4 linked regions of the Homo sapiens genome follow. The protein of the gene in region 1 interacts with the protein of each later gene in a biochemical or structural test. Each region holds a gene or a part of one and is shown on either strand. Other genes may lie near its edges.

Region 1 (7,035 bases):
ACCTTTTCAAAACAAAATTTTTAAATTCTATAATTCTAGACACTCTCTGAAGAGCATTTTTTAAGCTAATACATTATACATCTTATATTTTCCATCTATAGACCAACTGATAATTCACAATGAAAAACATATGGTTGATAATCCTAAATTAACCCTGATAATTAAGTTTGTTATTTATCCTATAATCACTAGGATCTGCTAATAGACTTTGTTAAACACTAACTGGGAAATGCCATAATGTTTCTATGTTTCTGGATTTCTTATAAGACAGCACAGCAAGCAGGAAGTATATACCATATATCTATGCTATTACAATATTTTAAGGAAAAATAAAGGTATCAATTGCACAGCCAAAGTAAAAGATTGTATTTTATGATAAAAAGGTGTTAAAGAAAATGCATTCCATGAGTATTAGCTGAATCCAAATAAGAAACCTTTCTTTATGGCATGAACCCGGGAGGTGGAGGTTGCAGTGAGCTGAGATTGCGCCTGGGCGACAGAGCGAGACTCCGTCTCAAAAAAAAAAAAAAAAAAGAAATTAAAGATCTCTCTTTAATTATACTTATAAATAATAATTTCCTACTTTTCTTCAGGAAAATTTGTTCTCTATTTTTTATTTTTCTTTTTTTCCAGGAAATCTTTATAAGCCTAATTTTAAAAGTCTGGGCTCCACTGTCAAATAGCCCAGAATGCAAGTTCTGCATTCTCTACTTATATTCTGTGACTTTGGGTAAAATACTATATCTCTCTAAACCTCATTTTCTGTCACTACTTAGTTGTGAAAATTAGTACTTACCGAAGTGATCATAGGAATTGATAAAATAATGTATATAAAATAAATCTCAGTGATATACAATATATCAGTACTCAATATTTATTATTAAAATTACTAATTCAGACTTTCTGCAGATGTTCTAACATAGTTTCATATCACTAAGAGTAAAAAGAATAGTATTTGGGGCTCTTACATTTGAAAATTATAACCTAGGTTACCACTATAGTAGCAATATACACTTTATGCTTGGAATAAATCATCCTATAATTTATTGCTATGTACTTCAAATTATCTGTAAACATGTCTAATCTCCTCTGTAGAACAGTAGGCTTCTGGAAGGCAGAGCTAGTACTTTATTCAACTTAATAATTCCCACAATATTTCTTCATTGCCAGGTTCAGGGTATATCCTTGAGGAATGTTTGTAGATCAAATACATGATCAACGCCTCTATTTCTTATGCAGAAACACCTTTGAAACTCCGTGCCAACAATTCCTTAACACCTGAAATACTTTTGAACACTTTTGAATCAGTCCACTTGAAGATTTACCATGACCCAATAATATGATGTTTGTCAATATCTAGAGAGTCAAATCTCATTTAAAAAAACCAAAGGTGTGACCCAGGAAAGGATCTTCTGTATTTGAGTTTCCTACTCAATTTAAATACTAAAAATCGAACTCTTTGTGCCACACTCAATCCTTATAAAAGTGTCTTTTGTTGGGGAGAGGAGAATGGTCCTCCATCTACATAGGTACAACAAGTATACGCATCACTTTCCTTAAGATTACCCCTAAGACTAGGTAAGAATACAAGGAGGAGATCAGACATGCTCTAAATACATTTGAATAAGTTGCATAAATATGTTTGAATAAGTTACTCAATTTAAAAATTAGACTGTTTACACTAAATATAAGATCTCTAACTTCTTTCAAAAAATCAGAAGGTCTAGCAACACTAAGTCTATATTTCAGCTGGCTGATCATGAGCATTAACCAAGCAGCAGTCTCTCCCCTTAAGTCTGTGTGCTCAAGGCCATTACTGCCCCCACTTAGTCTCTTACCCATTTCCACTCCATGCCTCGCCCCTGTAGTCACCTAAGTTTGCAAACCTTGAATTAAAAGATGATCATTTATTTCTACAGTAAATATATCAGAGGGCTTTATTGACTTTAGCTGCCTCAGAACTACATTTCCATTCCCTCTTCTTTGGAGTCCAAGACGTTCATTCCACTTCTGTAATTTTCTCAAGGCTATGTCCCTATCCTTGGTCATTAAGTTACATCTTTTGTCTTCTATGTTTGATCATATTAAATGGAAAGCTTTCAGAAGCCTCTTTCTTTGTTTTTAGCACCACTCCAAATCCCTATTTCCATTCTTCCACTTTTCCATGTCTCTCTTATAAGCACCGTCTACTAGTGATAACAACTCTGTCTGCATGGAAAGACCTGAGAGATATGAGAGTGAATGCCTATATTTAGCCTTCTACTCCAGTGAAGTCAATGAGAAGGGAAGAAAGTCATTGAACAATCCAGGTACAGGGTACTGAGACTGTTTAATTGCCTGGGAGACATAAAAGACAAGGTCAATGGAACTCCTATCCATGAGAAATGTCTGCAGGGAGGATAAGGGACACACCAGGGATGGGCAGCCTCCGAGAGAAAGCCAAGATTCTATTAAATAGATATTTAGTATTCTCCCTTGATTTTGGGGAAGCTCAGCTGACAAGGGGTGACTTAAGGACAGAGACACGGTGGTTTTGTCCACCATTCTGCTAATTAGGTACCCTAGACAACCAACTTTCTAGGATACTTCAGCTACAAAGTGGATGTAATGAGCATCACATATCATATTGCTCACTGGTTCTTTCTCACAGAAAGAATCATTGTACAGCAGAGAGAAATCACGTGATTTAGGTGTGAAATTTCATGAATTTACTTCATACAAGTAATAGCATCATGTGAATTCCTGAACCTGGACTTGGCTAAGCTTTTTCACATTGTCGCCCCTTAGCACTCCTCTGTTCTCTGCCTGGTGAACTCCTTTCTCATTACTCTACCTAAGACATACTGTACTCTATTCCCTTTCCCATGCTCTATTTTCATCCTAGCACATATCACCATTTTGCATATGTGATTGGGAATTGCCTTTCTCTACCTACCATAGTAAAAGTTCCAACAGAGCAGTCTTTGATGTTTTGTTCACTCCTGTATCCACAATGCCTAGAACACTCAGTAAATATTTGTTAAAAGAATGAATATACACCCATTTTACATAATTAGATGTATAATATATACTCAGTTTTATCTATCAATTTTTTCACTTAGAATACAATATATTTTGGAGAATGTTCCAAATCAGCAAATACAATTTTTCCATGTTATTTTTGACAGCTGCATAGTTTTCCATTAGGTGGATACAGCAACTTTTATTTAAATGGTTCCCTATGATGAGCCTTTACACTGTTTCCAGATATTTGCTCTTAGAAGCAATGCTGCAAAGAACATCCTTGTCCATTTGTCTTGGGTGATATTGGTACCAATATCCATCCATATAATAATGTCGAGAAGTGGAATTGCTGAATCAAAGAGTATATACATCTTTTAAAAACTTTTGATAAAGAATCAAAAAAAAGTGATTGCCAAATTATTTTTTGAAGTAGAGGAACCTATTTACTTTCATACAACAGTATATGAGAGACCCAGTTTCTCCACAACCTGGCCAACACAAACTTGCATCAAACTTTTTAATTTTATTTTTGCCAGGCACAGTGGCTCATGCCTGTAATCCCAGCACTTTGGGAGGCTGAGGTGGGTGAATCACTTGAGGTCAGGAGTTCAAGATCAACTGCCATGGCCAACATGGTGAAACCCCACTCTACTAAAAACACGAAAATTAGCCAAGCATGGTGGTGGGTGCCCATAATCCCAGCTACTAGGGAGGCTGACACAGGAGAATTGCTTGAACCTGGAAGGCGGAGGTTGCAGTGAGCTGAGATCGTGCCACTGCACTCCAACCTGAGTAACAGACTCCATCTCAAAAAAAAAAAAAAAGAAAAAAATTATTTTTTTTTGTTACTCCTCTGATTGGTGAAAAAATGGTGTAGCATATCATTGGTGTTTTAATTACTATTTATTTAATTACAGATGAGGCTGAGCGATTTTTTCTATAATTTTAAAACTCTATGTCTCTTTCTGCCACTACCTGTACATAATTTTTGCTCATATTTTGATAGATGTGGACTTTTCAAAGTTATTCATAAAAGTCCATGGAATATCAAGAGTTATTAGCTTTTTGTCTCTCAAATGTCGTAGATGTTTTCCAAATATATTATTTGCTTTTGTGTAATTTTTACTTAGTCAGACCTATCAGTATTTCCTAGAATGGCACTGGGTTTTATGTTTTGCTTAGAACAGGTTTCTCTATTCCTAACTTATTTTTTTTAATCCCATGATTTTCTTTTATCATTTTGTAAAAAGTTATTCCCTACATTTCATATTTGATTCATCTTATATTTCTTTTAGGATGAGAAATCAGGTAGAGACTGATTCTTATTTTGCATGGACCCATCAATTGTCCTGAAACCATTTATTGAATAATTCTTCCTTTCCACTGAATGTCCAACTTCATTGGAGTCAATTTCTGTAACCTGTCTTCTGATTAATGAAACTAAACAATTTTTAAAACAATATGCCCCTCTCTGATTTATTTTATAGATTCAGTAGAAACTACATGGCTTGGGTAATGCAGTTATTATTAAAATTATAGAATTAGATCAATATGAATCCCAAGACATAATATATTATCATCCCTTTTTTGTATAGTTTTTCAAAGTACTTACTCTTTTGATCTTTATAACTGCATATTCATTTAATAGATTATGACACTAAAGGTCCAAAAGTAATATCTTTGCTTGGTTTTCTCAGCTAGTGAGTCCAACTCAAACTTTCTGATTCCAAGTCTAGTGCTCATTCCACTATACCTCAAGTAATATCAAATCAATAATTTAATAATAAAAAGATTATAATTTATCAAATATGTTTATTGTAAAATATGTAATCTCATTTTATAGACATAAACACCTCTTAAAATCCTTAGAAGAATGAGGTAGGATGTATACAGATGTGGAAAGTATATACATTTGTATCCTTTTATAGTTGGTAAATCTACCCAGAGGTGTGTTTCAGGAAACAGAACTGACACATTAAACAAAGATTCTCTGTACTGACCTCTGAAATACAACCACCTCTAACACATTCAATGGTAAGAACTTAGCAGTGTTTAAAAACCCTGTATACATACACACACACACGCACCCCCCACACACACACAGACTTTATATATATGTAATTTACCAAGTCTAGGCTACAAGAGGAAACTGGCAAAAATTCACTAATTGAAATGGAGCTTGGCCAAGACATCCATATCTAATCCCCCTTTTCTGATTCCAAATCAGGGAGAGTACATGCTTTGTGTTTTCTGGTAAAATACAGACCTATGTAACAATCAGCATATTTTCTCAGACCAGAGCAAGTAACTCCCAACAATGAGTGTTTGTCAGTCCTAACTGGTTTCTCTACGTGGGTGGTGAAAAAATACCTTACTACAGTCATTAATTCTTTCTTTCAAAAGAACCATGTGTCTTGAGAAGTTCTGCTCCATCACAGGGCAATATCCCATTTTAAATACAGTGTTTACCGATGTTTGTCCATGAATGACGTCAACAAAAATGTTTAAATCTCACCAGGAAAGGAGGGCTTAGTTGCCAGACTTTGGGAGACAGAGTTAGTTGATCTTTGCGCTCTCAAAGGCTCTGTTACTCAATTAAGTGACCAATCATTAACTCCAAAGTATTTAAGCCTAATAATACAACAAAAGAGAGAACAATGGGTAGTATCTTTAACATTAATCATGGTCACCTTTGGTTTAGCTGTTTAGGTCCTTTCCTAGCAGAATTTACAAGTGTATAGATACAGGTATTCTGGAATATCAAAGGCATCTCCCTCCAGTTTGCAAACACAGGGAAAAAGAAGAAACTTACATCTGTAAACCTATGTAAATCTAGGGGGATTCCTTTCAAACCTCGTTTTTTTGAAAGCAGGAAATACAATTTAAAACCAACTCTGTTTTTATCTACCAAAAGAATCAAAACTTTGAATTCTGACATAAATCCTAAATGATTGTCTTGAATCTCATCCCGCTTCCTACCTAATCTTCTCACAAGAAGATTAAGGACTGTGGACTTGGTGCTGGAGGAAGTAATTGCTCAATCACATTGGAATCCATTGGAACCCTTTACAATATTACTGCGGGCAGACAATACAATTCTAACATATTTCTTTCTTTACTCAGAGCTCAGAACAAGAAGTCAGACTCTTGGAGACCTTCTCCCTGATGTACTGCTCTTAACATTTCCAAGTTACAAACTGGGAACCGCTTCTATCTCAGAACACTAATTGTTGCTTCCATTGGTACCTTCCTATTTTTATATTACACTCACAACATCCTATTTTAGGACTTTATGTGAATATTTTCAGGATGGGTTTGGCGAAATTGTCAAGAAGTGCTTAAAACAATTAGGTCACAGCTTTCAGCAGACAAAAAGAAAAAGACGTGGCTGTTAGCTACAGAATCTGAGGTGATGGAAAAGATCTTTAAAATCCAGTTCTTCCAATATGCAGCAAAATGGGAGGACTTAAAATGCAGCTCTAAGAAGCACCGTCTCGTCTGCACCAAGCTTCTCCAGGTTTCCAGCTCAGTCACTCCCTAAATAGGTGCTGAGCTTCCAGTCCCCGCCAGGTCCCCGCTAAGGTTCCTCATTGAGGCACAGGAACCTCAGTTACACTCGCAGCCCTTCCATGTTTGCCCCCATGAAATTCTATTAGTCTTGTCGAATGGCAGTATTTGCCATTCCAGGCGAACTCTTTATGACAGTCTGGAACGAAATTAATCTGTTAATTGACTAAGAATGGGCTTTAGAGTGACCTGAATGTATTTAAAAAGTCAACAAATGGAATACGGTATAAAGTCTCATTTTTCTGACAAAAAGTTTGCTTGGAGTAAATTTTAACCTCTCCCCTGCCTCAAAACAAAAGCACGATGCCCCTCCTACCACTCCCAAGAAGCAAGCAAAAATAAAATAAAATAAAATAAAACTTAAATAGCCTTTTAATAAGAGTGTTCAGCGCTGTCTGGATGGAACTCGGGTCAGCTCCAGAAGCAGCCGGCCCCGAATCCTGGGGGCGAGGCCACTCGGCTCTC
Region 2 (4,489 bases), on another chromosome or scaffold:
ACTCTGTCTTCTCTTTACTAGTGCAAATGGAGTCTAGTGAGGAAAGGCTTCTTTCTCTGGGCTGGTCTCCCTATGTCTGTGGCAGGAAACCCACAGATGTGAAGATTTCTTTCAAACTCGCACCTACTGAGTGAAAGTATTTTCTGGCACAATCTACCCAGAGCTGTTTTCTGGCTACCGGAACCACCTGTTTTAATTGCCACTAGATGGAAGCAGATCAACTAGATTTTTTTTTTTTAAGATGTCCTTGAGGCACAGGAGGAGAGACTGGCTGGAAGAATATTAGCAAAAAGCTAATTACCATGCTAAGCAAATTGCTATATTAAGTTTAATGGTTCACTGATTTTTTATAATCAGTCAATTAATAGTTGTTTATTGAACATTTTTGTGTTGGAAACTGCTAAGCTTTCTTGAGACAGCAAGAGGAGTCAGCCTGGTCCCTGATTTCAGGAAAATTATTACCTAGCTGGGGAGTTAAGACAGGAATATAGAAAGAAAAAAATCAGAAAAATACAAGGCAGAGCATGGTAATGGCCAATGGGTGCTATATTTAAGAAGGAAAAGGTCATTTGGCTTGGTGGTTATAGAAAATGTTATAAAGAAGGTTGCTTATGAAGAATAGATAGGATTTAGGTATATGGAGAAAAGCAGGAAAGGAAGGCAGTCTGTAGGAAGGAAATTGTGTAAGCAGTGGTATGGTAGTGAGACTATGAAAGCATTTTTCAGGGGCCACTGAGCAGAACTTTCTTGAGCCCATGGCTTATTGAGGAGTTGTGGAGTTGAAGTTGGAAAGGAAGGCTGGCCCCAATAACATAAGTCTTGAATGCTTCACCAGATGGTCTAGAAAGGCCTAGCAAAGAAGAATTATTTGCCCAGCTCTCATTTATTGACCAAGGCTGTATTAATTCATAAGAATCACAGAATTCTAGGTCTGAATATGATCTTGGTGGATATCACATTCAAACTCTTTTTGTAGTTGAACTAATTAAGTAAGTTTTCTATAGGCCTTGAGCAAGTGACAGAGTTAGTTACAATAATCATAAACCTTTATCAAATATTAATTCCATGTTGTATACTGTTATGAATGGTTTACATGTCTTAAATCATGAAATATGCCTTTAAGTCTGTGGGAGAAGGGTCTATGAACATCTTCATTACTGATAAAGAAACAGGCACAGAGAAATAAAATAGCCTGAGGTCACAATAAATGGCAATGCTGAGATCCATACTCATTTGGATCCAGGAATCATGCTCTTAACGCGTATGCTTTTAGAACTCAAGACCCTTGACTACCAGCTTAGAGTGGCAAGTCCCAGGCACCCTCCTTTTCCAGTAACGTGGTTTTTTTTTTCACACTGAAACCATTGTGTGACGGCACTGAGGAAGGGTGGGGTAGAAGTATGGTGTGTTTTTAGAACAAGTCAAAGGTAAAATGAATACTATCACACTAAACACCATGAGCCTTTTTTTTTTTTTTTAAGTTCTTGGGTGAATTTTCATAGTAGTTTGTGTTCATTTCTATTAGCTTTTGAATGGTGAATGAATGACTCCTTGGGCATTTGTGGTTTCATTTCTTGCTGGGTTATTTTGACTCTTCTGCAAAATGACTCTGTTTATCACCTCATTTGGTTTCTACTGTCTAAATTCTGGCAGGATAGAAGCTACACCCAAGATACACAGGAAGATATGATGCCAACCTCAGAGGAGGGCATATGTGAAATTTTGTTTTCAGAAACATTTTTTTGTCTCTATTTTGGCAAGCACATTTGCAGCTGCTGAACTGTGGTTTACCCTGACAGTTCATCATGAGACCAGCTCCTCAGAATCTGGTTCTCCCTTTGAAAGGTGCTGTGAAGACATACCATATTTCATTCTCTCCTTGTCCTTTCCAAGAATAAGACAGTTGTGTCACACAAAAAAAGTGTCACTTATTTCTTTAAACTAAATGTGTTACCATCTCATTAAATTATATCCCAGGATATAATTTATCACGAGTTTATAACCACCACTATTTCATGAGTTTAAATTTTCTCCAATTTCACTTTCCATTTAAGCATGCCTTCTAATTCCTTGACTTTCCACTGCTCAAAATCAATCTACAGCTGGGCTCGGTGGCTCACGCCTGTAATCCCAGCACTTTCGGAGGCCGTGGCAGGTGGATCATGAGGTCAGGAGTTTGAGATTAGCTTGGCCAATGTGGTGAAACCCCATCTCTACTAAAAATACAAAAATTAGCTGGGTGTGCTGGCACGTGCCTGTATTCCCAGCTACTCAGGAAGTTGAGGCGGAAGAATCGCTTGAACCCAGGAGGCCGTGGTTGCATGAGCTGCCTCCGTGCCACTGCACTCCGGACTGGGCAACAGAGTGAGACTCCATCTCAAAAATAAATAAATAAATAAATTAAATTAAATTAAATTAAAATAAACATAAATTTAAAAAATCAATCTACACTGTCCTTCAGACTCATTAGATCTGGAGACAAAGACCGTATGCACCACAAAAATTTCTCCAAGTGGGGTCTGTGCGCCAGTGGCATAAGCATCACTAAAGAGCTTGTTAGGGGTGCAGAATCTCAGGCTCCACTCAGACCTACTGAATCAGAGTCTGCATTTTAACACCATCTCTGAGTGGTAAGCACATGAAAATCTGAGAAGTGCTGCTACTAGGGTTTGCTTACATTTGTTCATCTTCAGAGGTTCCTAAAGCCTGGCCTCTTGTCTGAGATTTCCAGCTGAAAGCATTTCCTTGCTCCTCTTCTCATCTCTAATGAATATTTACCTTTACTACTAACACTCCAAGTTTTGCAATTTTTAAACTCTTATTATCTTTTGTTTTTCTTTCAGTATGAATGACCCATATTAAATCGCCCTTGGTGAAAGAAAATTCTTGGAATACTAAAAATCATGAGATCCTTTAAATCCTTCCATGAAACGTTTTGTGTGGTGGCACCTCCTACGTCAAACATGAAGTGTGTTTCCTTCAGTGCATCTGGGAAGATTTCTACCTGACCAACAGTTCCTTCAGCTTCCATTTCGCCCCTCATTTATCCCTCAACCCCCAGCCCACAGGTGTTTATACAGCTCAGCTTTTTGTCTTTTCTGAGGAGAAACAAATAAGACCATAAAGGGAAAGGATTCATGTGGAATATAAAGATGGCTGACTTTGCTCTTTCTTGACTCTTGTTTTCAGTTTCAATTCAGTGCTGTACTTGATGACAGACACTTCTAAATGAAGTGCAAATTTGATACATATGTGAATATGGACTCAGTTTTCTTGCAGATCAAATTTCACGTCGTCTTCTGTATACTGTGGAGGTACACTCTTATAGAAAGTTCAAAAAGTCTACGCTCTCCTTTCTTTCTAACTCCAGTGAAGTAATGGGGTCCTGCTCAAGTTGAAAGAGTCCTATTTGCACTGTAGCCTCGCCGTCTGTGAATTGGACCATCCTATTTAACTGGCTTCAGCCTCCCCACCTTCTTCAGCCACCTCTCTTTTTCAGTTGGCTGACTTCCACACCTAGCATCTCATGAGTGCCAAGCAAAAGGAGAGAAGAGAGAAATAGCCTGCGCTGTTTTTTAGTTTGGGGGTTTTGCTGTTTCCTTTTATGAGACCCATTCCTATTTCTTATAGTCAATGTTTCTTTTATCACGATATTATTAGTAAGAAAACATCACTGAAATGCTAGCTGCAAGTGACATCTCTTTGATGTCATATGGAAGAGTTAAAACAGGTGGAGAAATTCCTTGATTCACAATGAAATGCTCTCCTTTCCCCTGCCCCCAGACCTTTTATCCACTTACCTAGATTCTACATATTCTTTAAATTTCATCTCAGGCCTCCCTCAACCCCACCACTTCTTTTATAACTAGTCCTTTACTAATCCAACCCATGATGAGCTCCTCTTCCTGGCTTCTTACTGAAAGGTTACCCTGTAACATGCAATTTTGCATTTGAATAAAGCCTGCTTTTTAAGTGTTAACTAGTTTGCCTAGTTTGTTATTTTGAAATTATCATATGTTTTGTTTTCTCCCCAGTGAGATTACATGCTCCTTCAGGGCAGAGTTTGTGTCAGATCCCTGGAGTATCTAGTGCATTACTTGACACTCAATAAATGAATGTTCAAATAAATCAGAAAGAGCATACAGTGCACTGCTGATATAAGTTTCAGCAAACCCTCTTTCTCTATGGCATCTGATGACCTGGGCAGATATCACCTAATGTCAACAGCTGAATTCTTATGAGAGAATAGAGCCCTTTCAGAAGCTAGCTGGAAATACCTCCTTGTCCCATGGCCAATATAGATTTCATACAAATTTGCACACATTATGAGAATAATTTTTTGGTAATGATTACACTTTTCTTTCTCAAAGACATCTCAGATTCTGTATTATAGCAAAAGCTGTTGCAAAAGATTCTCCCTATAGTACACTGTAAATCTTGGATGTGCAAATCACATTCATGTGGTTTAGGGTACATCCCCTGGAGGTGT
Region 3 (7,035 bases), on another chromosome or scaffold:
ATTTTGTCTCCTGCAGTGAGAGAGTGTGGAGAACTTGAGCTCCCTCAACACGTGCTCATGAACTGCAGCCACCCTCTGGGAAACTTCTCTTTTAACTCGCAGTGCAGCTTCCACTGCACTGACGGGTACCAAGTAAATGGGCCCAGCAAGCTGGAATGCTTGGCTTCTGGAATCTGGACAAATAAGCCTCCACAGTGTTTAGGTATGTAGACCTTATTCTTTTCATCCTCACTGACATAGAATTTTGGGGGAGAAGAGGACACAATGAGCTTTCTCCATTAAAAAATGTGAGAAATAATGACCATCTAGGTTAGATGGAAAACTCTGGTTATCACTGTTAACTGTCAACCAGAGTAACATTAATTTCAATTTTCATGGTATTTTTTTATGGGTAGAGTGACTTAGTCAGTTTAATTGTTGATTCGCAGGCAAAAACATTACAAAGGGACCCCTCTTTCCCTTTGTTAATTGTAAAGTAAACAGAGTACAATGATGAGGACTTAGGGGTTAAGAATTATTAATTTGATAATTTTACCTAACTTCTCTACATGAAAAACAAGGGTGTTTGATCTTTCCAAGCAGCTATTGAAAACACCATTTAACCATTCTAGTGCATCAACCTGCCTGCCACTTTGGGAAGGTGTGACTGCTGCAGAATTTGAAGGCTTCCAAGGTGATGGACAAAATTTGTCCAAGGACTCACACTATTATTCTGTGGTTGGTTTTAGCTGCCCAGTGCCCACCCCTGAAGATTCCTGAACGAGGAAACATGACCTGCCTTCATTCTGCAAAAGCATTCCAGCATCAGTCTAGCTGCAGCTTCAGTTGTGAAGAGGGATTTGCATTAGTTGGACCGGAAGTGGTGCAATGCACAGCCTCGGGGGTATGGACAGCCCCAGCCCCAGTGTGTAAAGGTGAGTTTCAGGTAGTTGGGATGTATAATGTCCATTGCACCCAGTCCTTACTTAGTGCATAGATGAAATTGACCAGCTTATGGAGAAGCTGGCCTGAATTGCCAAAATTTAATTCTCTTCCTACCTGCCATTCAGCTAGATTGGGTTCATCTGAGATGAGAAAGGAAAAAAATTCCTTTCTTTCCCCAAACACAAATGCAGGCAGTTTCAGAATGGCCTCATTCATAATTTCCCCATAAGATTAGAAAGGGTGGCCTCTACATCTATAAGTGGACACTAGAAGACCTACTGAGACAGGTTTATAGAAGTATAGGGAATAGAGGACATTAAGAATACAGCTTGGAGGAATCTTTGTTTTTAACAGACTCAGATCACCCTGGGAACTGGTAATCCAAGTCTGGACAAACATCATTAGGGTCTCTTGACCTTTACATCTTGCTAGCTCCACCTGCATTTCAGAGGTGGTTCCACCATTGCTCTCTGTGTGGCTTTTCTCCTTTCTCAGTATCTTTCTCTTTATCCTTGGTTATTCTCTCCAGCTGTGCAGTGTCAGCACCTGGAAGCCCCCAGTGAAGGAACCATGGACTGTGTTCATCCGCTCACTGCTTTTGCCTATGGCTCCAGCTGTAAATTTGAGTGCCAGCCCGGCTACAGAGTGAGGGGCTTGGACATGCTCCGCTGCATTGACTCTGGACACTGGTCTGCACCCTTGCCAACCTGTGAGGGTAGGATTTTTCATTAGCAACCTCCATTCTGTCCAAGAAGGAATCATGGCATGGTAGAGAGGCCAAGGGCTCTCAGTGTCGGGGTGATCTCTTCTAAGTTCTTGCACTAGAGCAAGCTCTTCAACCTCCAGGAACCATGGTTTTCTCATCTGTGAAATGGAGCTAAGAATTGCAAGGTGCTTGTGAGGATTAAGTACATAAAAAGTATACAATTAAATAGCATGTATAAAGTACCTAGCATAGAGCTTCTGCTCTACTGACATATCCGAGGTATAGGACCATGTCCTATACTTGAGAGGGAGTTGGGAGCAGCGGCTAAGGTGGCTAAAGAGAGTGGTTCACCATGTAGTCTTTGAGGGTAGCCTTTGACAAAGAAGCAAAGGAAGGAACACTGCATCGAAAAAGTGTGTGATGCAATCCCAGGCAATTACATAATTCCGCCAAAATGAATTCTCTGCAATTGCCTCACACCCTCAGTTTATAAGGCGGACAGTGGTAATGGGAGAATAGGAAATTTACGATAGATTAGTGAATTCCCAGACCTGGATGACAAGCCCAACCCTGCTACTATCTAGCTATGAGACTTTAGAGAAGTCACTTAACACTTCTGAACCTCACTTTTCTTGCCTAAAACATAAGAGAGAAGAGAGAAACACTAGAGGATTTTGGTGTTTTTGTTTGTTTGTTTGTTTGTTTGTTTGTTTGTTTGTTTTGAGACAGAGTCTCACTCTGTCGCCCAGGCTGAAGTGCAGTGGCACGATCTCAGCTCACTGCAACCTCTGCCTCCCAGGTTCAAACGATTCTCCTGCCTCAGCCTCCCGAATAGCTAGGATTACAGGCAACTTTTTGTATTTTTAATAGAGACTAGGGTTTCACCACTTTGGCCAGGCTGGTCTCAAACTCCCGACCTCAAGTGATTCACTCACATCAGCCTCTCAAAGTGCTGGGATTATAGGTGTGAGCCATTGTGCTCAGCCGGATTTTTGGTTCTTAAATGCTCTGAGTCTGTAAAAACCAGAGGTCAAAGCCCAGAGCAAAGAGGTAGTCTTTACACTTTGAAAAGTTTCAGAAATAGCCTGGAAATGAAATGCTTTATCAAGGAAGAGCATGAGGAAACCAATCTTTATCAGAACTGAGGTCACTCAGGGCTTAATTGTGCTCAGGAATTCACTTTGGCTGCACTCACTTGGCAACTGAAGTCTGATTAGGATGACATCCTGTGTTCTAGAGACAAAGCCCGGTCAGGATCATTTTACAGGACTAGGTAACAGTGTCAACAATAAGCTATGCTAGTCCAGCTTTTTTTTTTTTCCCTATAAGTCCAGCATTTTCCTGTATATACTCTTTTCAGGTTCAATTTCACAGATAATGTCAATATTTAATGAGCACTTTCAATGTACAAAACACTCTGCTCAGCTCCAGAATAAAACTATGAATGACTGAGCCCAACTTCGAGGAGACCACGGTATAATGGGGAAGAATGACAATCATGTATGAACAGCGCAAGAACAGAGGCTGTGGGAGCACATTGCAGGGGCTTCTACCCTTAGTTAAGGTGGGAAGGGAGGGCTTCCTAAGGAAAGGGAAGTCTAAGCTGAGACCTGAAGGGCAGGTGAGAGTGAGTCAGGCCAAGAGGGGCATGGGAAGGTGTTCCAGGCAGTCTCTCTTTTGGAAAATGGAGGTTTTAGGGTTCTGAACACACTGAAAATGTGGACAGGAAAGATATAGCATCTAGGAATTTTTTCTGAGGAAGAACCCGGCCCTTCCATTACCTGGCTTTAGAAGATACCTTTTCCACTTAGCTATTTCGTGTGAGCCGCTGGAGAGTCCTGTCCACGGAAGCATGGATTGCTCTCCATCCTTGAGAGCGTTTCAGTATGACACCAACTGTAGCTTCCGCTGTGCTGAAGGTTTCATGCTGAGAGGAGCCGATATAGTTCGGTGTGATAACTTGGGACAGTGGACAGCACCAGCCCCAGTCTGTCAAGGTACTGTAACAGTGGTAATGTTTTTCTGTGTGTCTCAGCTCGTTAGAGGCATCAGCATCTGCACTGAGCATTGGCATGCCTTTCTTTATCAGATATTCACTGAGAACCTACTATGGGCCATGTCCTTTGTGCTTGGGACCAGGGATGAGATGAAACGGTGCGTGAAGCCAGTCTTAGGCACATGTCCACTATAGTATAGTCAAGGTGAGGTTTGCACTGATTGACACATATAGGGTGCATTGGAATGAAGAAGATGGGGCTTGGGGGAATAAATCATGCATGAGGAATAGCATGGGATGGGGAAGGGTAATGGACAAGGTGTTTAGCTCAGTCCTGTCACTTCCTGTCCTTAAGCTAGTGGTTTAGACTCTCTGAGGCTCAGTATCTTCTGTAAAATGGGGCTACTATTATCAGCCTTACCTACCTGCCTCACTAGTAGTTGTGAATTAATGTGTGTAAACGCAACTTTAAAACTCTTATAGGATTTATAGGGAAAATGATGATGATGACATGTTACCTTATAAATCACATGTCTGTGGTCTGATTTGACAAAATGATCCTCTTTCAATATGTTAGGTTTCTAATCTTTTGCTCTTATACTAAGGCACTCATGGGGGGCGGGTGTGGTGGTTCACAAGGATTATTATTTTTTTTACGAGGAGTACCTCACACTAAAGTCATGTTCCAGAAGTGTAATATTGACATTTTGTGTTTTCATTTACGGAGACCTCTGAGCAATCTATGTGACTCCTCTGGGTTCCTAAGTATACCTTGATTTTAAAATGAGGCAGTGGTTTGAAAGCAGGTCTTGAAGAGATATTTGTGCACCCATGTTCATAGCACTATTAATCACAACAGTTAAAATGTGGAAGCAACCCAAACACCCATCAATGGATGAAAGGATAAGTAAAAAGTATTCCACATACTTACAGTGGAATATTATTCAACCTTAAAGAGGAAGTAAATTCTGACCTCTGCTACAAACATGAATGAACCTTGAAGACATTATGCTAAGTGAAATAAGCCACTATGAAAGGACAAATACTGTATGATTCCACTCATATGAGGAACTTAGAGTAGTCAAAGTCATAGAGACAGAAAGTAGAACGGAGGTTGCCAAGGGCTCGGCGGAAGAGGGAAATAGGGAGTTATGGTTTAATGGATACGGAGTTTCAGTTTGAGATGATGAAAAGAGTTTTGGAGATGAATAATGGTGATGGTGGCACAATAATATGAATGTGCTTAATACCACTGAACTGTACACTTGATATTGGTGACATGGTAAATGGTAAATTAAATTTCATGCTACGTATATCTCACTATAATAAAAAATTGAACAGCAAAAAAAAAAAAAAAGAAAAAACAAGAAGGCAATAGAATAGATGGCTATACACCATGATGCTGACACTTAGTCTGAGTTATGGAATGTATTGTATATGTTATCTGGGAGAAAAAGACACAATGAGCTCTTTGACACACTTAAAACGGATCATAAGGGATTATTCAAGCCATTGTTGTCTCCAGGAAGGTAAATGTCTAATCAAGAAAAGATAGTTGGATATTCTCTTAAGTATCCAGAGATGTGGTCTCACTAACCCCCTTCATAGGCCTTCTGAATGTTTCCCACTCCTGAACTCAGTGTCTGCATGTGACGCAAAGCCTTAATGATATTATTACTATCTATTACTACCACTGCTACTAATATAGCAGCTAATGTTCATTGAGCACTTTCTATGATCTCAGTCTAACTCTATGAGGTAGTTACAATTATTACTACCATTTTAAAGATGAGAAGAGACAACACATGGAATATGTGTGCTCTCTTCGTATATGGTTATTTATTTTACATCTTTGAGATCATGGTGTATATTATAATTTTTACTCTGATTTTTTATTTAACATCATACATTGAGACCTCTCTCCTATCTTTACAAGTTAAAATATATTATTTTTAGTGACCTTTAACATTCTTTTCATGGATCCACCATCATTAATTTCCACCCTCAATTAATGGCATTTGTGTTTGTTTTCAATATTCCGCTCTTACAAATAATGTCTTCACAAAAATCTCTAAATAGATTTTTTGGTATGCATCTTGATTACATACTTAGCATAAATTCTTGGGTCCAAAAGCATGATAACTTAAAAATTATTGACACATGTTGCCAAGATGCTCAACAAAGGTTTAGCATTTCCTAATAAAATCCTTCATGTGCCGTTATAATTAAATGACACTTTTTCTTATCTTCTATGTTAAACAAGCCCAATTCAGGAATCCCTGTTCTTGACACTAGAAAGAGTTAATGGTCAAAAATCAATGAGTACATGTGTATTACTGTTTCTTTATTCCTTACTTCCTCATCCCTTAGCTTTGCAGTGCCAGGATCTCCCAGTTCCAAATGAGGCCCGGGTGAACTGCTCCCACCCCTTCGGTGCCTTTAGGTACCAGTCAGTCTGCAGCTTCACCTGCAATGAAGGCTTGCTCCTGGTGGGAGCAAGTGTGCTACAGTGCTTGGCTACTGGAAACTGGAATTCTGTTCCTCCAGAATGCCAAGGTAAGAGTGTATTCTTTCTAACATCATGGAAATAAATTGTAGGCAGTATTTTTAAAGGCTGGATTTTAGAGGTGACAACTATGTAAGATCCACCTTGAAATGGACTGGAAAATTCATAAATACTCTCACTCATCCTCTTGTCCTATAACCCAAGGATCCCAAATGCAAATGCCTCCGGGGGATAGGCAGATTACACAAGTGTCAGGATGTCTGGCCATAGACAGTAGGGCATGGCCCTTGCTAACTCCTTATCAGGGTCTTTACCCAGACCTGAAGGCTCCTGCCACAAACCAGGTAAACTCTTCTCACCTGGCCAAACATGGCATCTGGAAAGAAGACCAGGTGGGAAAAAAATTGCTTCAGAGTGGTTGTCCCAAGGCTGGTCTGGCACTTCTAGGAACCACAGGGTATAATGGTAAAATGGGAGGGGCAGAATTTACAAGTACCCAGTTGCAAACACTCCAAGATCTGTATAAAATTGGAGAAATAGACTTAGAATAAGGTGAAGAGTGATAGAAAAAAGAGAAAAACTAATCTGTATACTGGAGGTTACGGGATTCTCAGAAGAAAGAAATGTGTGGATTCAGTATAAACATTCTATCTGCATTGTACTTGATATACATACATTTTTTGAGACGGAGTCTCACTCTGTCGCCCAGGCTGGAGTGTAATGGCACAATCTCGGCCCACTGCAACCTCCGCCTCCCGGGTTCAAGCAATTCTCCTGTCTCAGCTTCCCGAGTAGCTGGGACTACAGGTGCCCACCACTGCACCCAGCTAATTTTTGTATTTTTGGTAGAGATGAGGTTTCACCATCTTAGCTAGGCTGGTCTCAAACTCCTGACCTCAGGTG
Region 4 (7,035 bases), on another chromosome or scaffold:
TCCCTGGGGAAAGCAGCCTCCGGGTGGAGCTGGCAGCCAAGCGGGACAAGACGCCAGGACACAAGGGCACGACATAGAGCACGGAGATGCCGGCTGTGCTGAGAGCTCACATGCAAAGGGCAGGCCCTTTGGCATGTGGCCACAGTGTGGTGGGCTTGGCGTGGAGCAGAGCGGAGAGCTGTGACGGCGGGCGGCAGGCGGGGCCCTGGCTTACCCACGCACTTCCTGTGCGCATTGAGGATATAGCCATCGGCACAGAGCACTGTGTGGTTGACACAGTAGAAGGATCCCAGGGTGTTCACACAGAACTGTCGCCGGCTACAATCGTGAGCACCCATCAGGCACTCGTCTTGGTCTAGTGGCAGCCGCAGGAGGAAAAACAGAAGGACTGTTAGAGGGACATGGGCTGCCACGGAGCATCCAGTGACAGGAGAATGAGACCCAGCAAGGGGCAGGGGCCTGTCTGGGGCCTCCCCGCCTGACTGTGTGTAGCTGGGCCTTGGGCCCAAGTGTGAGTGTGCAGAGCTGGTCCCCACTGCCCCAGTAAGGACGGTGGTGAGGTGAGACTCAGAGAGGGTGGGTGGCTGCCCACGGTCACAGTGGGGACAGGACCAGAGGCTGCCTCCCGTACGCACTCGATACTTCCCACATCCACGGGCGCCAAGAGAACCATGCCCCCGAGAGCTTGCAAAGTCCAGTACTTAGGGGACCAGGCCAGCCACATAAACCAGGGAAGGGCCCACAGGGGCTCCAGGACACTGAGTGTCTGTGCTCCATCCAAAAGGGGACAGGGGTGTGGGCCCCTTGTATGCAGATTTCACACCAAGAGAAACCTAAAATCTGGAAGTGTTTTAATCATTCTTGTGCTCAACACGTTTGGAACTCACTTGATTATTTCCAATGCAGCAGAGTTGAGCAGCGCTCCTCCGCAGAGCAGGTGCCTCTCTGAATGCCCATTGCAACCTGGACCCCAGCTTTCACTGCCAGGGCTTCCAGAGGAGGGAGGGGGTCCTGGGGATGCGCAGACATGGGCTAGGCTGCATGAGCAGCACAGGCAGAGGGGCCTCACAGGGCTGGGCCCAAAGGAGGCCTGCCCCAGAAAAGATGCAGCTCTTACATCTTCAGGGCCCTGGGAGATGGGGGGCGGGGCCCAGAGAACCCAGCACCACCTGGACCTGAGAGCTGCCCCCAGCATCGGAGAGGAAGGCCTGCCGGTCACTGCCACGTCATGTACCCTGGGCAAGTCTACTGTCCTCTCTGGGCTCGTAGGACGGTGTTTGTCCACATCAGAACAGTCTCGGCTGGGGATGGACACGGGCTTTCAGCTTCTGGGAGGGATGTGGGTATTCACCCAGGCAGACTTGACTCTGTTCTCCCCCAGACACCCACCAGGGTCTCATCTCTGAGCCAGAACTGCCATACTTCCTAGACTCTGCATACTCCATTTCTGTCCTGCCCCCAGGCAGGAGGTAGAGTCTTGAGACCTCTCAGCTTGGTTCTTCAGAAGCCATTCACTGTGGGAACCAACCCAGCAGGTGCTGGATCCAATGGCCTCATTTTACAGTGGGGGGTCCTGGCCCACAGAGGCCCCACAAAGACAAGACCCAGACCTAGGCGGGGCCACGGGGGTGGAAGGTATGTGATCCTTGGACAGCTAATCATCACCAGTGTCCTTCATTTGGGAACAGATTCAGCCAGGCATTCCTGCTGTCCAGCCTCCCTCCCACTCCCCATCGGGGACACTTCTGGCTGCCCTTAAAACAACCGGCATTGCTTCCCCTTCCCCCTCTCCACCCAGGCCTGGACATGGCTGCACAGACCAGGGCAACCCTCAAGGGCAAGGTGAGTGGAGGTGGTGTCCGCGGACCAGCAGCATCCGTATCACCTTGTTAGAAGCACAAATTCTCAGGCCCACCCACCCAGACCTATTGACTCGATCTTTGGGGATTCGGCAGAATCTCAGGACTGCCTGTTTGACCCAGGCCTCCAGGGACTCAGGTGCACACTCGGCAGGAGAAGCACTGCTCCGGGAAATGCGGAGCGACACCATGTGAGGAGCCCGGGCCCCATTCCTATGCAGCCACACTGCAGGCCCACCCTGGAGTGCATGTATACACCGCACGTACGGTGAGAGGGAGTGACTGTTTAACCTGCTCCACTAGGGGTGCTCATCATAGCAGCCAAGACTCTTCCTGCACAAACTCAGCAAGTTTTAAGTCTCAGCCACCCCCACCTGGAGGCCCCCATCACAGGCCAACTCAGGTTTGCACAGGTAGGAGGGCACCCCAAGGCACTCACCTTCACAGGACACGCCATCCGCCATGATGGCATAGCCGGGAAAACAGGAGCATATGGCTGAGCCCCCAACAGTGCTGCACACCTGCTTGCAGGGTCCATTGTCTGGAGGAAACCACACAGAAATCAGAGACCACCAGGCCCTGGCCTTGGTCCACACTGGCTCATTCCCCATCCCTGGCTCTAACCTACTAGTGAGACACAGAAACAAGGCCCCTAGAAGGCAGGGATGCTGGGAGACAAGGAACGCCACTCCTGGTCCTTTTCACAGGTTCATCCATTAAGTCTGCTCCAACACCGTCTGGCGTCGGGGACGACGTTCTGGGTCTACCTCCCCCACCACTCGGATCCCAGCCCATGCCTTGCGTGACAGCAAGAACAATGGGGAGATGGAGGAGAAGAGAGAAGGAAGAAGAGAAAGGGAAGGGGGCAGGGAAAAAAGCAGGGGAAGGGAATGAGGAGAAGAACAACAAAGAAGAGGACTTTCTACACAGCGCTGAACACAGCCTCCACAACAGGTCGGCAAACCAGGATTTGACTACCTCAACGTTACAAGAATGGAGACAAAAAGCAGCTAACTGGCTGGTTTGGGGTCACACACCAGGCCCTAGGCTGTCCCCACACCACATCTCCCCAGTGACTTCCTCAGCTCCTCACTCAGCCCAGGGTAAGCCCATCATCCCCAAAACAGAAGCACACCCTTTGGAGGGGCCATCTTGCACATACCCAGCACCAGACAGCTCACCACCTGCAAGCAGCCCAGACCCACCCCCTGGACCCTGGGCCCTGTCCTGGAGACACCACCCACACTGCTTACCTTTGCAGGTATTGGGCTGCGGCAGTGGCAGCGGGATGGTGTTAGAGGCCACCTGGGAAAATTCTGACTTCAGTGCAGGCTCCTGTGGGGCTTCCGGCTGTGGAGGGTGACCCTCTGTCATGGGTAGAGCAGAGTGGGGGTTGCAGGGAGGTCTCAGGTCTTCAGCCAGGCCTCAGGCACTTCCAGGCACCTGCCCTTCTCACACAGGGCACTGACATTTAATCCCCCACCCCATTTCACAGGAGAGGAAAATGAGGTTTGGAGTGTGCATATACCTTGGGAAAGATCAATCTCAGCTACTGGGGGCAGAGGGGGTAGAAGGAAAGGAGGCAAGGAAGAAGAGAGGGGGGAAAGGAAAAAGAGTGTCTGGATTAAAAACCAATCAATTCTGGGACCAGTGACTGGGAGGAAATCCCTCAGGATCACCATGGGCCCAGCACTGGGGAGATAGCTGGGTTTTGGTGAGAGCCTCTGTGGCCTGAGCCTGTCCCTGCGCTCGAATATGGGACAAGGTGCTGGGGCCAGGTCCCTGCAGATGGAGCCCCAGGAAGAAAGCTTCTATTTTTCCTGCCTCACAAATCCCCCATCACTGGAAGCTTCAGGCTTCTGTGGGTTCCAACTTGTGGGGTAACAGGAAGTGAAGGACCCCACAGTGTGCACCCCAGGAATGCCACACCCCCTGGCAAGATCAGCCCTTCCCATAGCCCCTGCCCTGGCCATCAGGGCCCTTACCTGGGCGGCAAGTGCGGCCATCGTCCTGCAGTGAGAAGCCAGGAAAGCAGGCACAGTGGTAAGAACCCACAGTATTGATGCAAAGGTGCTGGCACAGCTCTCCCGGGAGGAGAAGGCACTCATCCTGGTCATCGCCCGGCAGGCTGTTCGGCAGCTCGGCCTCTGTGCCCAGTGACAGGGCCTCTCGGCCCGCCATCTCTGCCTCTGAAACTAGGACAGGGGTTAGAGCTCAAGACAGAGCCAGCTTGGTCAGAGTAGGTGGCTGAGACAACCAGCTTTGGGAAACTAGTGCAGGTCCTCATCAAGACCTCTGTGTGCCCAGCAGACAGCAAGGATGGATGAAGCAGGATGGATGGATGGGTGGGTGGGTGGATGGGTGGATAGATGGATGGATAGATGGGTGGGTGGGCAGGTAAATAGATAGACGGATGGGTATAGATGGATGGGTAGATGGATGGGTGGATGGATGGGTGAGTGAGTGGATGGGTGGGTGGATGGGTAGATGGATGGGTGGGTGGATGGGTAGGTGAATGAATGGGTGGGGGGGTGGGGGGGGTGGATGAATGGATGGATGGATGGATGGATGGATGGATGGATGGTTAGATGGATGGGTGGGTGGATGGGTGGGTAGATGGGTGGGTGAATGAATGGGTGGGTGGATGGGTGGATGGATGGATGGATGGATGGATGGATGGATGGATGGATGGGTGGATGGGTTGTAACTGGATGGGTGGATGAATGAAGGAGGATGGATGGGTAGATGGAAGGATGGGTGGATAGATGGATACATGGGTAGACGGATGAATGAGTATTTGGCTGAATGGATGGATGGGTGGGTGGATGGATAGATGGATGGGTAGATGAATGGATGAGTAGATGGATAGATGGATGGGTGAGTGGGTGGATGGGTGGATGAGTGAATGGAAGGATGGGTAGGTGGATGGATACGTGAATGGATGGATGAATGGGTGTGGGGCTGAATGGATGGATGAATGGGTAGATGAAAGAGTGGATGAGTGGATGGGTAGATGGATGGGTGGACAGACAGATGAACAGACGGATGGATGGACTGGTAGGTAGGTAGATGGATGGATGGATGGATGGATAGATGGATGGATGGATGGATGGATGGATGGATGGATTGATGAATGGATGGGCAAATGAATGAACAGACCTCAAGCAGTAAGAATGAACCCATCAGAGCCAGGTCCAAGTCTTCATCACTGAGTCCTCTACAATAGGACAGGGTCAGATCCACAAAGAAGCTCTCACTAAAGTGTTACAATGGATTCAGACCCCTGACCTCAGTGACATCAAGGAGGATCATCCTTAGCAGCAGAAAGGGCTCCAAATCTGGGCTCTATTGGATCAGATGTGACCACTGACCTGGGCCTTCCCTAGCTGGGTCAACTTGGGCAGCACTAGGCCTCTCTGTGCCTCCAGATTCTGGAATAAACCCATCTCCCAGGGTTGTGCTGGGGAGCAGGTGAGAGTGGAAAAGAAGGCTCCTGAGGCTGAGCTGCCTTGGGAAGCTCTTTGTATGACAACTGTGGGGAAAGCATGCAGCCAGGACTTCAGGGGGAGGCCTACAGCCCCTCTAAGCTCTGTGCCAGCCCAGGGCCTCCTTCCCACCCCACCCAGGCAGCAGAGCCCACAGAGAGAGTAGCTGCATGAAGTCACGTATGAGGAACGTGTTTCATATGGAGGGTGTTTACATTAAGCTGCAGCCCAATCAGTCCCAGCCGGTGCCTCCAGGCAGGGCCATGATGGCTGGCGGTCTGGTCCCGCAGAGACTCAGCACTGCAGGCAGGCGGCGGACAGACCTGGACCCAGGGCTCCTCCTAGCACACCACAGGCTAGACAGTACCTCCAGGATTCAGGCTCAGCTCACCCTCACCAGCATCTTCCTCACAGGAGGAAGCATGGATCTCTGGCCAGGATCGTGCCTGGCTCTGTTGCCCACCTACTCCCTTCCACCCACCTGCCTTTGACTTTTGAAGCCGGACTTCCTCCCAAACTCTACCTTCAGCCAGACTCTTCTGGGTACTAACCTGGCCTTCACACCAGTACTCAACCATTCCCCTTAGAGCCAATCTCAGCAAGTAGCACTTCCTTGGACTGGACTTACTCTCTGTACCCACATTGGATTGGCAAGGGTGGTTGGTACATCTGTTCTGGTTGATCTGCCCAGGTCTGGCCTGGTCCAACCCCCACACACTCACCCCTGCCTCTGCCTCACCCTGATGGGAGATCCAGGTATCTGTTCTCCCACCTGTACCACACAGGATATGAGCTCTTCCTGTAGGATCTCCTGAGCCCTGGCACCTGTGGACAGCAGGCATCTTAACCCCTATGCACAGACTTCTGCCATCTTGCATTATAGTGACAGAGATCTGGGTCAATCGGAACCAAGGCTGACTGGGTCTAGATAAAACTCAGGGCATCAGGAAGGCTGGGGCAGAAGTGGGAGTCATTAGAGCCAAGGTGTCCAGTCCTGGCTGTGCCAAAGACCCGGCATGTGCCTGGGGCAAGATCCTGCCCTTCTCTGGGCCTCATCTTCCCCCTCTGAGCTGCTGAAGCACGGCAACGGTAACAGCAACAGTGGTGGCAATGCTGAATGCATCACTAGGCACTGCCAAAAGCCCTTGACAGGCATCCTATCATTCATCCTTGCACTGAACAAGGTAAAGAATACAAGACCATTTGACAGATGCCACAGTGAAGGCTCTGAGAAGGAGCCTTCCTTCTGTGTGACCTGCCCCAGGTAAGCAAAGGAACTAGGATTCCAACCAAGTCTGCCTGACTCCAGAGGCCAAGAGTTTAATCTTGATACCAGGACCTCATCTGTGGCTTTAATTCCCACTCCATGAAGTGCCCAGGACAAATCCACAGGGGCCCCAGATGACGGTCCATAGGAACAGCGAAAAAACTGGGCTGGTGGTTCTGGAACCTACCTGGACATCTGGTCCCCAACCAGTTGAGGCTGAACATGTGGACACCAACAAAGCAGGCCTGCCAGGACTCTCACGGCACCAGCCCCAGGGCCACCAAGGCCCATGTACAAAAAGGACATCTGCTGACTCACTGGGGCACCCTCATCAGGCTCCTGCAGACCCACCAGGCACAGAGGAGGCTAATGGTCATGGGTCCAGGAGACAGCCCTGGCTAGGGGACAGGGACTGGACATGGCA

The links.
Region 2: the proteins of VCAN (region 1) and SELL form a complex in vitro, tested with the Homo sapiens proteins (one study listed by BioGRID).
Region 3: the proteins of VCAN (region 1) and SELP form a complex in vitro, tested with the Homo sapiens proteins (one study listed by BioGRID).
Region 4: the proteins of VCAN (region 1) and FBLN2 form a complex in vitro, tested with the Homo sapiens proteins (one study listed by BioGRID).

What each region holds. Positions count from the first base shown.
Region 1 is NC_000005.10:83,474,744-83,481,778, reverse strand, and holds part of VCAN (versican core protein isoform 1 precursor), read right to left. Parts: intron 1-7,035. UniProt on the Homo sapiens protein: May play a role in intercellular signaling and in connecting cells with the extracellular matrix. May take part in the regulation of cell motility, growth and differentiation. Binds hyaluronic acid.
Region 2 is NC_000001.11:169,690,157-169,694,645, reverse strand, and holds the end of SELL (L-selectin precursor), read left to right. Parts: intron 1-2,843; coding exon 2,844-2,862; 3' UTR 2,863-3,979; downstream 3,980-4,489. UniProt on the Homo sapiens protein: Calcium-dependent lectin that mediates cell adhesion by binding to glycoproteins on neighboring cells. Mediates the adherence of lymphocytes to endothelial cells of high endothelial venules in peripheral lymph nodes.
Region 3 is NC_000001.11:169,606,096-169,613,130, reverse strand, and holds part of SELP (P-selectin precursor), read left to right. Parts: intron 1-16; coding exon 17-202; intron 203-728; coding exon 729-914; intron 915-1,453; coding exon 1,454-1,639; intron 1,640-3,441; coding exon 3,442-3,627; intron 3,628-5,996; coding exon 5,997-6,182; intron 6,183-7,035. UniProt on the Homo sapiens protein: Ca(2+)-dependent receptor for myeloid cells that binds to carbohydrates on neutrophils and monocytes. Mediates the interaction of activated endothelial cells or platelets with leukocytes. The ligand recognized is sialyl-Lewis X.
Region 4 is NC_000003.12:13,615,095-13,622,129, reverse strand, and holds part of FBLN2 (fibulin-2 isoform a precursor), read right to left. Parts: intron 4,055-7,035; coding exon 3,845-4,054; intron 3,750-3,844; exon of another isoform or gene 3,582-3,749; intron 3,227-3,581; coding exon 3,113-3,226; intron 2,401-3,112; coding exon 2,299-2,400; intron 356-2,298; coding exon 215-355; intron 1-214. UniProt on the Homo sapiens protein: Its binding to fibronectin and some other ligands is calcium dependent. May act as an adapter that mediates the interaction between FBN1 and ELN.